2 separate regions of the Homo sapiens genome follow, and region 1 is linked to region 2. The links come from fine-mapping of genetic effects on plasma protein levels. A gene starts in region 2. The other region holds a variant in brackets. All regions are shown on one strand. Distances are from middle to middle. Region 1 overlaps PLAUR (plasminogen activator, urokinase receptor). Region 2 holds the start of PLAUR (plasminogen activator, urokinase receptor).

What was found. PIP is the chance, under the fine-mapping model, that this variant and not a neighbour inherited with it causes the effect. Protein levels are from the aptamer-based SomaScan assay of Sun 2018.
Region 1: its variant is fine-mapped to the plasma level of the PLAUR protein (Sun 2018, PIP 0.95). The variant lies in the coding sequence of PLAUR. If it changes the protein, the assay may bind it differently, which can mimic a change of level.

The regions. Positions count from the first base shown.
Region 1 is chr19:43,645,799-43,651,316 of GRCh38, reverse strand. It overlaps PLAUR (plasminogen activator, urokinase receptor), which reads left to right. Exons shown (of 7, transcript NM_002659.4): 7 at 2,174-2,738. The coding sequence ends at 2,427. Among named protein-coding and RNA genes, the nearest start is that of CADM4, 8.7 kb to the right of the region's middle. The variant T/C (reference allele first, on the strand shown) is at 2,369.
Region 2 is chr19:43,668,383-43,672,499 of GRCh38, reverse strand. PLAUR (plasminogen activator, urokinase receptor) reads left to right here and starts at 2,331. Exons shown (of 7, transcript NM_002659.4): 1 at 2,331-2,434. The coding sequence starts at 2,380. It overlaps LOC124904724 (a long non-coding RNA gene), which reads right to left and starts at 3,736. Exons shown (of 3, transcript XR_007067264.1): 1 at 3,317-3,736; 2 at 2,020-2,474. RefSeq lists an enhancer at 2,263-2,562 and silencers at 3,483-3,562, 3,603-3,832.

The sequences.
Region 1 (5,518 bases), 22 kb after region 2:
TCACCTGAGGTCGGGAGTTCAAGACCAGCCTGACCAACATGGTGAAACCCCATCTCTACTAAAAATACAAATTAGTCGGGCATGGTGGCACATGCCTATAATCCCAGCTACTCGGGAGGCTGAGGCAGGAGAATCACTTGAACCTGGGAGGCAGAGGTTGCGGTGAGCCAAGATTGTGCCATTGCACTCCAGCCTGGGCAACAAGAGTGAAACTCCGTCCCAAAAAATAAAATAAAATAAAATTAAATTAAAATTAAAACTGAGAAATCTTTTTTTTTTTTTTTTGAAATGGAGTCTTGCTCTGTCGCCAGGCTAGAGTGCAGTGGCATGGTCTCAGCTCACTGCAACCTCCCCCTCCTGGGTTCAAGCAATCCTCCTGCCTCAGCTTCCTGCATAGCTGGGATTACAGGCATGAGCCACCATGCCCAGCTTATTTTTGTAATTTTAGTAGAGACGGGGTTTCACCATGTTGGCCAGGATGGTCTCGATCTCCTGACCTCATGATCTGCCTGCCTCGGCCTCCCAAAGTGCTGGGATTACAGATGTGAGCCACCGTGCCCAGCCAAAACTGAGAAATCTTTAAAGATTTATTTATGAATTCATCTTATAACAATAAAAACTCATTACACATTAAGATAAATAACATTTTAATGAAAAATAAGTATAGTTTCCAAAGAAAAAATGTAATGATAGCCAGGCATGGTGGCTCATGCCTATAATCCCAATACTTTGGGAGGCCAAGGTGGGCGGGTCACTTAAGCCTAGGGATTTGAGACCAGCCTGGGCAACATAGCAAGATCCTGTCTCTACAGAAAATACAAAAGTTAGCTGGGCATGGTGGTGCATGCCTGTAGTCCCAGCTGCTTGGGAGGCTGAGGTGGGAGGGTCACTTGAGCCTGGGAGGTGGAGGTTGCAGTGAACGGAGATTGCACCACTGCACTGCGGCCTGGGCAACAGAGCGAGACCCTGTCTTAAAAAAACAAACAAAGAAACAACAAAAAAAAAACCAGCCAGGCGCGGTGGCTCACGCCTGTAATACCAGCACTTTGGGAGGCCAAGGCGGGCAGATCACAAGGTCAGGAGTTCGAGACCAGCCTGGCCAATATGGTGAAACCCCGTCTCTACTAGAAATACAAAAATTAGCTGGGCATGGTGGTCGCGCCTGTAGTCCCAGCTACTTGGGAGGCTGAGGCAGAAGAATTGCTTGAACCCGGGAGGCAGAGGTTGCAGTGAGCCGAGATCGTGCCACTGCACTCCAGCCTGGGTGACAGAGTGAGACTCCATCTCAAAAAAAAAAACAAAAAAAAAGCGTAATGAGAAAACTGGCATTATTTTGCTGTGTTGCACATCTCTTTAATGTCCAGCTTAATAGAAGACAGCTGGGTCCTCATGGAAGCTTCTGCTTTCAGTCTCTTGCAATATCACATGTCCTGGAGTTTTTGGAAAAGCCCATTGTACACTTATGAGAGTGAAAAAGCCATGTGAAATCACAGATCTCCTGAAAGGGTCTCTGGGGTCCCTGAGCCACACTTTAAGAACCGCTGCTCGCTTCCTTTCTTTCTTTTTTTTTCTTTCCTTTTCTTTCTCTGTCTCTCTTTCCCTTTCTTTCTTTCTTTCTTCCTTCCTTCCTCCCTTCCTTCCTTCTTTCCCTTCTCCTTCCTTCCTTCCTCCCTCTCTCTCTCTTTCTTTCTTTTCTTTCCCTTCTTCCCTTCCTCCCTTCCTTCTTCCCTCCCTCCCTCCCTCCCTTCCTTCCTTTCTTTCTTTTTATTTGTTTTTTGAAACAGGGTCTCACTCTGTTACCCAGGCTGGAGTGCAGTGGCGTGATCATAACTCACCACAGCCTCCATCTCCTGAGCTCAAGTGATCCTCTCATCTCAGCCTCCCAAGTAGCTGGGACTACAGCTGTTTTTTTCTTTTTTATGTTTGTAGAAACAGAGTTTTGCTATGTTGTCCAGGCTGGTCTGGAACTCCTGGGCTCAAGCTATCCTCTCTCCTTGGCTTCCCAAGGTGTTGAGATTACAGGCATGAGCCACCACACCTGGCCCTGAGAACTGCTGCTTTCTCTAGGTGGTAGTGAAGGTGGCACCCACTGCAAGGTGGCAGGTCACCTACTGGAGAATTCCAGTCCTGGGCCCAGGAGCTGGAAGTCTCACTCCGTCTTCTCTTTCCTCAGAACCGAAAAACCAAAGCTATATGGTAAGAGGCTGTGCAACCGCCTCAATGTGCCAACATGCCCACCTGGGTGACGCCTTCAGCATGAACCACATTGATGTCTCCTGCTGTACTAAAAGTGGCTGTAACCACCCAGACCTGGATGTCCAGTACCGCAGTGGGGCTGCTCCTCAGCCTGGCCCTGCCCATCTCAGCC[T/C]CACCATCACCCTGCTAATGACTGCCAGACTGTGGGGAGGCACTCTCCTCTGGACCTAAACCTGAAATCCCCCTCTCTGCCCTGGCTGGATCCGGGGGACCCCTTTGCCCTTCCCTCGGCTCCCAGCCCTACAGACTTGCTGTGTGACCTCAGGCCAGTGTGCCGACCTCTCTGGGCCTCAGTTTTCCCAGCTATGAAAACAGCTATCTCACAAAGTTGTGTGAAGCAGAAGAGAAAAGCTGGAGGAAGGCCGTGGGCCAATGGGAGAGCTCTTGTTATTATTAATATTGTTGCCGCTGTTGTGTTGTTGTTATTAATTAATATTCATATTATTTATTTTATACTTACATAAAGATTTTGTACCAGTGGACAAGGCCAGGTATGCCCTTCTTTGTAGTGTCTATCTTTGGGAGGATAAATGGTGGGGGACACCTTTTCACAGGCTCCTGGAATCAGGGGTCATGTTTGAGGCCCCTGCCTAGGTTGGAAGTCCTCCTGGGGGCTGCCTCCACATCTATTTCTGGACTCCAAATGCTGACAGAGCAGGAGCACTGCCATCTTGAACAAACACCACCATTCTTAGTTCCTCTTGATTAAAAATCGGCTAAATCCGGACGTGGTGGCGGGTGCCTGTAGTCCCAGCTATTCGGGAGGCTGAGGCAGGAGAATGGCGTCAATCCGGGAGGTGGAGCTTGCAGTGAGCCGAGATTGCACCACTGCACTCCAGCCTGGGTGACAGAGCAAGACTCTGTCTCAAAAAAAAATCAGCTAAATCCAGCCCCAAAACATCAGCCTAATGGCTACCATCAGCATAACCAGAAACATTCCAACCCTAAGATAAACCCCTCTCTGACCAGAAACATGCCAACCCCCAGATAGCCTCCCTTCCGACCAGAGACTTTCCAACCCCACAATAAACTTTTCCTCACATGAAAACATTCCGAACCTAGATAAGCACCCCCTTCCAAAACTCTTAAATATCCTTAGTCTGTAAAAAAAAAAAAAAAAAAGGGCTCTCTAACCTAACTCAGCCAAAAGCCCCCCTCAGGTTGGTTTTCTCTAAAATAAACCTGTCCTTCACCGTCAAGCCACATTTCATGTTTCTTTCCTTTTCCTTTTTCTTTTCTTTTCTTTTCTTTTTTTGAGATGGAGTTTCACTCTTGTTGCCCAGGCTGGAGTGCAATGACACAATCTCAGCTCACCACAACCTCCACCTCCTAGTTCAAGGGATTCTCCTGCCTCAGCCTCCCAAGTAGCTGGGATTACAGGCATGCACCACCACACCCGGCTAATTTTGTATTTTTAGTAGAGACAGGGTTTCTCCATGTTGTTCAGGCTGGTCTCAAACTCCCAACCTCAGGTGATCTGCCCACCTTGGCCTCCCAAAGTGCTAGGATTACAGGCATGAGCCACCGTGCCTGGCCTCCTCTTTCTTTAATTCTTACAAATGCAAGCTTCCAGATCACACACTGAACACTAACCTTCTAGTCTTCTCCTAAACTTCAAAGGTTGCAACTATTTTGTTGTTCTAAGGAGACATCCCCACATTTCCCAGCATGCTTTGGGAAAGGAGACGGATAGAAGATAACCTGATGGCCAGAACTCCCTGCATGCACTGCAGTGAGGAATAAGGACAGGAGTGCACTTCCCCTGATGTGCTGGGGACCGGGGATAAAGGCTGGGCTCTATTTCCCGGGATGCCTCAGGACTGTCAGAAAAAGAGACAGAACTACCATTTCAATGGCACTCTAGGAGCACAATATTGAAAAATTCATGTTCTTCTCATCATTTGCTAAGGCAACCCATGGAGACAAAAATTACATTCCCCATCAAATCTTGTGGCTAATGAAGAAAAAATAAGATATCTTCGGCTGGCTGTGGTGGTTCACGCCTGTAATCCCAGCACTTTGGGAGGCCGAGGTGGGCAGATCACTTGAGGCAGGAGTTTGAGACCAGCCTGGCCAATTTGGCAAAACCCCGTCTCTACTAAAATTACAAAAATTAACCGGGTAAGGTGGTGGGTGCCTGTAACTCCAGCTACTCGGAAGGCTGAGGCAGGAGAATCGCTTGAACCCAGGAGGAGGAGGTTGTAGTGAGCCAAGATCACACCACTGCATGACACAGTGAGACTATCCCCAAAAAAAAAAAAAAAAAAAAAAAGACATCTTCCATGGTATTTGGGGGCAGGTGAGGGACAAGGTTCTTGTTTAGGGCTTTCTCTAATGACATATCACCACCTGTCACTGTAGTGGCTTAAAGAAGTGAGGTCTGTACTTCTGCCTCTTGAATATGAGTGACTCTGTGACTGCTTTGACCAGTAGAATGTGGTGGAAGTTTTGCTGTGCTATGTTCTGGAACCAAGTTTTAAGAAACTTTCATTTTTCACTTTCTGAATCTTAGAACGCTCACTCTGGGGAAGCTGGTTGCCATGTAAAAGTACTACTGCCCTGAGACCACCATGCTGTGAGGAAGCCCAAGCTACTCATGTATAAATGCCATGTGGAGATAGAGCCCCAGATGTTTCAGCCATCTCAGCCCAGGCACCAGACAAGTGGGTGAAGAAGCCACCTTGGACATGTAGCCCCAGCAGATGTGATATAGAGAAGAAACAGGAAACTTGGCTATATTAGTTTCCTAGGGCTGCCTGTGATAAATTATTACAAACTTTATAAACTAACACATTGTGTGCCTATATCAAAACATCATGGAAGGACAGGCACAGTGGCTCATGCCTGTAGTCCTAGCACTTTGGGAGGGTGAGAAAGGAAGATCTCTTGAGCTCAGGAGTTCAAGATCAGCCTGGGCAACACAGTGAGACCTCATCTCCACTAAAAATAAAAAAAAATTGGCTGGATGTGGTGGGGCATGCCTGTGGTCCTAGTTACATGGGAGGCTGAGGCAGGAGGATCCCTTGAGCCCGGGAGGTCAAGGCTGCAGTGAGCCATGATCCCACCACTGTACTCCAGCCTGGGCAACAGAGCCAGACTCTGTCTCCAAAAAAAAAACACTAAAACCCAAAACCATATTACATATGTCCTGTAAATATACACCACTATTATGTATTCATAATACTTAAAAATAAAAAATTAAAAACACACACACACAAATCTTACAAGCAAGGTGGCTTAAAACCACAGAAACTTGGCCGGG
Region 2 (4,117 bases):
TCTTCTGTTCCTAGAATCTCATCAGGCTTCCACCTCAAGGCCTTTGCACTGGTTGTTCCTGCTCCTTGGAAAGGTTCCCTGCCCATCTGCCCTACTTCTTCCCTCACTGCATTCAGCCTCTGCTTGAATGCCACTTGCTCAGGGAACCCCTCCTGGATCACCCACCTAAAACAGCTCACACCTCATTTGCACCCAGATACTTCCTTCAGCCTGCTTTGTTTTCTCCAGTTTGCTTATCCCTCTCAGACAGTGAAAGATTAGATAACACATATCTGCTCCCCACTGTCAACACAACAAAAGGTGGGAACTTTGCTTTGCGTCCTGCTGTGCCCCTAGCTCCTGGACCAGTGCCCAGCACAAAGTAGGTCCTTGGTAGATGTTAAAGGAATGTGTTGAGCCCTCCATTTCGGCCAGCAGCTATTCCAGGCATTGCACCTACATTAAATTGCTCTGTTTAGTTAGATGCATCCTAAGACGGGGAGACAATTTTATCTTTAGTATTTTATTTTACTTAAAAAAAAAAAAAACTTGGCCAGGTGCAGTGGCTCATGCCTGTAATCCCAGCACTTTGGAAGGACAAGGCAGGTGGATCACCTGAGGTCAGGAGTTCGAGACCACCCTGACCAACATGGTGAAACCCCATCTCTACTAAAAATACAAAAATTAGCCGGGTGTGCTGGCGTGCCCCTGTAATCCCAGTTACTCAGGAGGCTGAGGCAGGAGAATTGCATGAACCCAGGAGGCGGAGATTGCAGTGGCCGAGATTGCACCACTGCACTCTAGCCTGGGTGACAGAGTGAGACTTCGTCTCAATAAATAAATAAATAAATAATAAAAAGAAAGAAAAAACTTATTATAAGCCTTTTCAAACCCACAGAAAAGGAGACAGAATGGCATAATATGCCCTTATATACTGATTACCTTTATATAATTGATACAACCATTTGGCTATTTTGCCTTTATTTTCTACTCAAGTATTTATTTATTTATTATTTTTTTGAGACAGGGTCTCGCTCTGTTGCCCAGGTTGGAGTGCAGTGGTGCAATCATAGCTCACTGCAGCTTCCAGTTCCCAGGTTCAAGCGGTCCTCCCACCTTAGCCTCCCAACTACCTAGGACTACAAGTACGGGCCACTGCACCCAGCTAATTTTATTTTATTTTTAATTTCTTTTGGAAAGATGAGGGCTCTTTATGTTTCCCAAGCTGATCTTGAACTCCTGGCCCCAAGTGATCCTCCTGCCTTGGCTTCCCAAAGCATTGGTGTTACAGGCATGAGCCACCTCATCTGACCTCTTCTAAAATATTATAAAATAAATACAGACATCAAAATGAAAACAAAAGAAAAAGAAAAAACAAAACAAAAATCCCCAAAACAACAACAACAAAAAATGCAGACATCAATAACATTCACCACTAAATACTCTAGTAAGCATCTGCAAAAACAAACAAACAAACAAAAACCAGAATCCCACCTAAGCATACAGCCATTGTCGTAACAGTGATATCTACTTTTTTGGCTGAAGTGTCTTTTTTTTTTTTTTTTTTTTTTTCTGTGAGAAGGAGTCTTGTTCTGTTGCCAGGCTGGAGTGCAGTGGCACGATCTCGGCTCACTGCAACCCAACCTCCGCCTCCCGGGTTCAAGCGATTCTCCTGCCTCAGCCTCCTAAGTAACACACACACGCCACTACGCCCGGCTAATTTTTGTATTTTTAGTAGAGACGGGGTTTCACCATTAAGTGTTTTAATGTAGGTGCAATGCCTGGAATAGCTGCTGGCCAAAATGGAGGGCTCAACACATTCCTTTAACATTTACCAAGGACCTACTTCGTGCTGGGCACTGGTCCAGGAGCTGGGGGCACAGCGGGAAGCAAAGCAAGGGTTAAGTGTTTTAAGTGTTTAAGAGATGCATATTTCAGGATGCATCTCTAGATAAGGACATTTTCCAAAATACCAGTATCCCTCCTGACAAAACTAACAAAAATCCTGTTAGCCAAATAATCAGCCACATTCATATTTACCGTCAAAGTTTTTATCCTCATTTTACAGCAGTGGAGAGCGATTGCCCCGGGTCCCACGTTAGGAAGAGAGAGAACTGGGATTTGCACCCAGGCAATCTGGGGACAGAGCTGTGATCACAACTCCATGAGTCAGGGCCGAGCCAGCCCCTTCACCACCAGCCGGCCGCGCCCCGGGAAGGGAAGTTTGTGGCGGAGGAGGTTCGTACGGGAGGAGGGGGAGGCGCCCACGCATCTGGGGCTGACTCGCTCTTTCGCAAAACGTCTGGGAGGAGTCCCTGGGGCCACAAAACTGCCTCCTTCCTGAGGCCAGAAGGAGAGAAGACGTGCAGGGACCCCGCGCACAGGAGCTGCCCTCGCGACATGGGTCACCCGCCGCTGCTGCCGCTGCTGCTGCTGCTCCACACCTGCGTCCCAGGTAGGGGCTGGGTCCCGAACGCCTGCGCCTGGAACAGGGTCTAATTGAGGGGGTTGGGGGTTGTCAGAGGATGAGTTGGAGGAATGCGGTTCAGTCCTCAGCATCCTCCCTAATCAAATAATAGTAATTCTCGTGCTTTGTGCAACGCCACGCGGCGCAGTACCTGGCACTCAGTAGCTAAGGAAATATTAGTGGAGCAAAGGCATTTAGCTTTACATAATTTAGTGAGTGCTTTTTTTTTTTTTTTTTTTTTTTTGACAGAGTCTCACTCTGTCGCCCAGGCTGGAGTGCAGTGGCGCGATCTCGGCTCACTGCAACCTCTGCCGCCCGGGTTCAAGCGATTCTCCTGCCTCAGCCTCCTGGGTAGCTGGGATTACAGGCGCCTGCCATCGCGCCCGGCTAATTTCTGTATTTTTAGTGGAGACCGGGTTTCACTCTGTTAGCCAGGATGGTCTCAATCTCCTGACCTCAGATGATCCACCTGCCTCGGCCTCCCAAACTGCTGGGATTACAGGCGTGAGCCACCGCGCCCGGCCCAAGTGTTCTTTTTTTAAATGGAGTTCTTCGAAGCCTCTTCCTTGCAATTTCAAACTAGGCGATGGGACTTTATTAATTTCGTTTCGCAGAGGAAACTAGGGCACAGAGAGGTTAGATAACTGGCCTAAAATCACACAGCCAGTGCTTGAATACGCAGGATCTGACCCTGCAGCGCCCCCCAGCGCTCTCCACGCTGCTGGGTCTCCCCCTCTGAGAAACGGGGGGACAGGACCCCCTTTTACAAAAGGCCCAAAGGGAGGCTGACTGAGCGGCGCAGAGCCAGTGCTGGAGACCCGGGACTGTCCCTCAGGACCTTTCCCTCTCACTGAGGCGACTCTCACTTACTTCCCCGGAAAATGTGGGGGGCTCTGGGTCGAGGAATTCGAGAAGGAACTGAGTCAGGGCGGGTGGCCACAGGGTGTTGGGGCCGCGATGAATAACCCGGAAAGCGCTCGAGACCGCGGGAGGCCGGGAATGAGTAACAGCTCCGGGATACTCCGAACGCGCAGCTGGAAAGGGATGTCCGGGAAGGCCCGGAGGTCGGGGACCGGGCCTAGGGACTGGGCTGCAATCTCGGGGCGGAGCCTGGGGCGGGGAGAGAGTGTCGGGGAGGAGCCAGAGGGCGGGGCTGGAACCTCAAGGAAGAGCTACGGGAGAGGTTACAGACCGAGGAAGAGCTAGGAGCGGGGCTAGAACCTCGAGGCGGAGCCAGAGGGCGGGGTTATAACCTCGAGGCGTAACCAGAGGGCGGAGTTATAACCTCGGGAGGAGCTAGAAGGTGGGACTAGACTCTTGAGGGGCAGGATTATAACCTCGGGGAGGAGCTAGAGGGCGGGGCTGGAACCTCAAGGAGGGGCTAGGGGCGGGGTTATAAGCTTGGGGAGGAGCTACGGGGCTGGGCTAGGACCTCAAGGGGCCAAGGGGCGGGGGTTACGACCTCGGGGAGGAGCTACAGGGTGGGGCTGAAACCTCAAGAAGGGACTGGGGCGGAGTTATGACCTCAGGGGAAAACTAGGGGCGGGGAGAGCTAAAGGGCGAAGTTAGAATCTCAAGGAGGAGCTAGAGGGAGGGACTAAAGCCTCGAGGAGGAGCTAGGGGCGGGGTTATGGCATCGGGGAGGAGCTAGGGGGCGGGAAGATAAGGTCA